Linked DNA regions of Homo sapiens: region 2 is linked to region 1. Evidence: fine-mapped expression QTL. Tissue or cell type: whole blood. Region 1 holds a variant in brackets; the other region holds the start of a gene. All regions are shown on one strand. Distances are from middle to middle.

The links. PIP is the estimated chance that this variant, and not a neighbour inherited with it, causes the effect.
Region 2: RFX2 starts here. The variant in region 1 is fine-mapped to the expression of RFX2 in whole blood (INTERVAL, PIP above 0.99).

Annotation. Positions count from the first base shown.
Region 1 is chr19:6,333,943-6,336,697 of GRCh38, forward strand. It overlaps a transcript of ACER1 not described here. Among named protein-coding and RNA genes, the nearest start is that of ACER1, 1.7 kb to the left of the region's middle. The variant G/A (reference allele first, on the strand shown) is at 1,660.
Region 2 is chr19:6,109,307-6,111,806 of GRCh38, forward strand. RFX2 (regulatory factor X2) reads right to left here and starts at 1,194. Exons shown (of 18, transcript NM_000635.4): 1 at 1,087-1,194. RefSeq lists an enhancer at 1-208 and a silencer at 1,056-1,515.

The DNA.
Region 1 (2,755 bases):
CATCATAGCTCACCGCAGCCTCAAACTCCCAGGCTCAAGCAATACTCCTGCCTCAGCCTCTGAAGTAGCCAGGACCACAGGCACATGCTGCCACCATGCCTAGCTAATTGTTTTTTTTTTTGGAGACAGAGTCGCTCTGTTGCCCAGGCTGGAGTGCAGTGGCATGATCTCAGCTCACTGCAAGCTCTGCCTCCCGTGTTCACGCCATTCTCCCGCCTCAGCCTCCCGAGTAGCTGGGACTACAGGCGCCCACCGCCACGACCGGCTAATTTTTTGTATTTTTAATAGAGATGGAGTTTCACTGTGTTAGCCAGGATGGTCTCGATCTCCTGACCTCGTGATCCACCTGCCTTGGCCTCCCAAAGTGCTGGGATTATAGGTGTGCGTGAGCCACCGTGCCCGGCCTTTTTTTTTAAAATTGAGATGCAGTCTGGCTCTGTCACCCAGGCTGGAGTGTAGTGGCGCAATGTCAGCTCACTGCAACCTCCACCTCCTGGGTTCAAGCGATTCTCCTACCTCAGCCTCCCAAGTAGCTGGGATGACTGGCACCTGCCACCATGCCCAGCTAATTTTTTTTGTATTTTAGTAGAGATAGGATTTCACCATGTTGGTCAAGCTGGTCTCGAACTCCTGACCTCAGGTGATCTGCCCACCTTGGCCTCCCAAGGTGCCGGGATTATACGCATGAGCCACCTCACCTGGCCTGAGTTCCTCTACTTTAAGCTGTGTGACCTTGGGCAAGTGAATTTACCTCTCTGATCCTCTGTTTGCTCACCTGTCATATGGAGACGATGGTGACAGAGCCAACTGTAACAAAGGAAGACAGAGATAAAGCATGTACAAAGGCTTAGCCCACTGCCTATGCTAGAGTAGGCACTTGATGGATGGTAATGGGTTTTCTTTTTTTTTTTGAGATGGAGTCTTGCTCTGTCCCAAAGTGCTGGGATTACAGGGTTTTCTTACTGAAGCTGACCTTGAACTTTAAGTCAACTTTGTGGGAATAATAATAATTATTATTATTATAATAAAAGAGCCTGGCCTTAGCAAGCGGTTAGCAAGTGTGCATAACAATAATAATATAATTATTTATTATATAATAGCAATATTATATTAAAATATAAAATTATTATATTAAAAATACTATTGTTATATAATATTTTAAATATTTTAGTATATTATTTTAATGTGATTAATATAATTTAATATAATAATTAATATTATATATTATATAATTTTTCTTTTTTTAAGTGCTTGATTTTCAGTATTATCTCATTTAACGTTCTTTTTTTTTTTTTTTTTTGAGATGGAGCCTCACTCTGTCTCCCAGGCTGGAGTGCAGTGGCATGATCTTGGCTCACTGCAACCTCCACCTCCCTAGTTCAAGCAATTCTCCTGCCTCAGCCTCCTGAGTAACTGGGACTACAGGCACCTGCCACCATGCCCAGCTAATTTTTGTATTTTTAGTAGAGACGGGGTTTCACCATATTGACCAGGCTGGCCTCAAACTCCTGACCTTGTGATCTGCCCGTCTCGACTTCCCAAAGTGCTGGGATTACAGGCGTGAGCCACTGTGCCCGGCCTTCATTTAATGTTCTTAACAATCCTACCCCGGGTGCTGTGGCTCACGCCTGTAATCCTAGTGCTTTGGGAGACCAAGGC[G/A]GGAGGATCACAAGGTCAGGAGATTGAGACCATCCTGGCTAACACAGTGAAACCCCATTTCTACTAAAAATACAAAAAAGGTAGCTGGGCGTGATGGTGGGTGCCCATAGTCCCAGCTACTCAGGAGGCTGAGGCAGGAGAATGGCATGAACCCAGGAGACGGAGCTTGCAGCGAGCCAAAATTGCACCACTGCACTCCAGCCTGGGTGACAGAGAAAGACTCTGTCTAAAAAAAAAAGAAAAAATCCTAAGCGCCAGGAACTATTGTTATCCCTTTTCTTTTTCTTTTTTTTCTTTTTCTTTTCTTTTTTTTTTTGAAATAGAGTTTCACTCTTGTCACCCAGGCTGGAGTGCAATGGCATGATCTCAGCTCACTGCAACCTCTGCCTCCCAGGTTCCAGCGATTCCCCTGCCTCAGCCTCCCAAGTAGCTGGATTTACAGGCACCCGCCAGCATGCCCGGCTAATTTTTGTATTTTTAGTAGAGACGGGGTTTCACCATGTTGGCCAGGCTAGTCTCGAACTCGTGACTTCTGGTGATCCACCTGTCTCGGCTTCCCAAAGTGCTGGGATTACAGGCTTGAGCCACTGTGCCTGGCCTCTTTTTCTCTTTTGAGACAGGGTCTTGCTCTGTTGCCCAAGCTGGAGTGCAGTGGCGCAATCATAGTTCAATGCAGCCTTGCTTGATCTCCTGAGCTCATGCGATCCTATCTCCTGCTAGTAATCACTAGCAAGGAAACTAAAGCCCAGAGAAGTTAAGGAACTTACCATAGGTCACACAGTTAGGAAGTGATAGAGACAGGCAAGGAACACCACCTCTATGATGCCTCAGTTTCCTCACCTGTAAGGTGGTGAAAATGATAATGGTACTGCCCTCTCAAGCCTGTTGTGAAGAGTTAGTGAGCTGACACGATGTTTCCATAAAAAGATAAATTGTGGGCTGGGCACGGTGGCTCATGCCTGTAATCCCAGCACTTTAGGAAGCCAAGGCAGGCGGATCACGAGGTCAGGAGATCAAGACCATCCTGGTTAACATGGTGAAACCCCGTCTCTACTAAAAATATAAAAACCTAGCCAGGCATGGTGGCGGGCGCCTG
Region 2 (2,500 bases), 220 kb before region 1:
TCAGGAATATGGGGTCACAGGGAGAAGGGGAGGGGGTGTCCGAGGCGACCTGAACGCGAGGATTTGGGGCAAAAAGGTGAGAAACAGTTCCCGGGGAAGCTCGCTCGGGGAGTTTGGGATGAAAAGGTGAGAAGGGCAAGAGGGGTTCTCCCCAGGGCAGACGCACCAGCTTTTAGTTAAGGAATGAGAAAAAGGTTCCAGGGGTGCCCCCAAATTCAGTATGTCTGGGAGTCCATTAAAAAGGGGGTCCCCGGGACAAGTCAGATCTAGGAATTTGGGGTAAAAATGAGAAGGGAGTCTTCGAGGTCCCCCCGATGCAAGAAGTTTGCGACTAAGAGTGACAGAAGGGCTCTGGGGTCACCCCAATTTCGGAGGTTTGGGGAGTAAAGTAAGAAGAGGGCCCCAGGTGGCCCCAATTCAGGGAGTTTGAGGGTATGAGTAAAAGAGGGGTCCCCGGGTGTCCCCATCTCAGAGATCTGGGGAGTAAAAGTGAGGAGAGGGTCCCCAAGCGCCCCCAATTCAGAGAATTCGAGGGTTTGAGTAAAAGAAGGGTCCCTGGGTGCCCCCAACTCAGAGATCTGGGGAGTAAACGTGAGAAGAGGGTCCCCTGGCGCCCCCAATTCAGAAAATTCGAGGGTATGAGTAAAAGAGGGGTCCTTGGGTGCCCCCAACTCAGAGATCTAGGGGGTTAAGGTGAGAAGAGGGTCCCCAAGCGCCCCCAATTCAGGGAGTTTGAGGAGTTTGAGAGACGTTCCCGGGGCGCCCCCAACTCAGCGAGTTTGAAGGTAAGCGTGAGAAAGGGGTCCCCGGACGCCCCAACCTCAGGAAGTTTTGTAAAAAGTGAGGCGACGGCACCGCACCTCCCCCGCGTTCAGTCAATAAGGAAAGTGGGGACGTCGCCAGGGTCCCCCCAAACTCCGCCGCGCGCGCGGACGGGGTGGCGGAGGCGGGTCCCGCGGGCGCACCACCCGGACGTTTGGGGTGAGCGGCGGGGACGTGCTGCCCGCCCCCCGGCCCCCGAACGGGGTCCCCGCCGCCCCCCACACTCCCCGGCCGGGCTGGGCCCGGGGCGGTCGCATCGGTCACCTGGAGTTCGGGCCGGGAGTTCGGGCAGCGGCTCCCGCGGCGGCGGCAGCGGCTGCTGCGTGTTGGTCCCCGTTGGTAAGTAACAGTCTCCACGGCTACAGTCTCTATGGCGGCGGCGGTGGCGGCGGCGGCCGCTCCTCCTCCGGCTCCCGCCGCCAGCCAGCCTCGCGCAGCCCGCCCGCCCGACGGGGCGGGGCGTTGTTACCGGCAACGGTTACCAGGCTCCGCGCCCCACCTTCCTAACGGCCCGCCCACGCTCGCCTCCAACGGGCCCCCAAGAGGGCGGGGCGCGAGACCCTACGGCGTTCCATTGGCTGTCTGCAGAGTCTGTCGGAAGGAGGAGGCGTTCCCCCTTGAAAAAGAGTGCGAGACTCGGCCAATGGCCGCGAAGAGGGGCGGGTCTTGGCGGGAGGCGCGCGCGGCTCAGAGGGTTGGCGAACCGGTCGCGCGCGCGGCGCCGTGGGTTGGTGGCGCGTTTTGGGAAAGTCCAGTTTTAGGGGACCCAAGGGACTCCGTTTACCCCACAGGAGGAGTGTGGGACATGTGGGAACAGTCTGATCAGGGGTCAGCAAACTCTCGCTCGCCGCCTGTTTTTCACGGACCCCCAGCTGAAAATTTAAATATATATATATTTTTTACATGGTTAAAAGAAACTATCGGCCGGGCGCGGTGGCTCACGCCTGTAATCCCAGCACTTTGGGAGGCTAAGGCGGGTGGATCACGGAGTCAGGAGATCGAGACCATCCTGACTAACACGGTGAAACCCCGTCTCTACTAAAAATACAAAAAATTAGCCGGGCGTGGTGGCAGGCGCCTGTAGTCCCAGCTACTTGGGAGGCTGAGGCAGGAGAATGGTGCGAACCTGGGAGGCGGAGCTTGCAGTGAGCCGAGATCGCACCACTGCACTCCAGCCTGGGCGACAGAGCGAGACTCCGTCTCAAAAAAAAAAAAAAGAAAGAAAGAAAAAAAAAGAAACTATCAAAAGGAGCTTTTGTGGGGTGTGAACCTGATAGGAGACTCTCTTTTATTGTATTGGGCCCAGTATTTTGAACTAGTTTAAAGATTGGCAAACTGCGGCCTGCGGGTCAAATTCTGCCTGCTTGGGTTTGTAAATAAAGCTTTATTGGAACATAGCCACGCCCATTTCCTTGAACAGCTTGGAAGGCTGCTTTGACACTACAGGGGCGGAGTGGAGTAGTTGCGCAAAGACGGCATGTCCCACGCGAAGCCTAAGATATTTACTATACGGTCCTTTACAGAAAATGTTTGCCAAACTCACCAGCCCTCCTCTCAAGCTGGTAGATTCAGCTACGAGTAGGACAGAAACAGACAGATCCTCATAGAACTTTTATTCTAGTGAGGGAACATTGACAGCAAACAGAATAAAGAGGTAAACATATAGTTATTCGAGACA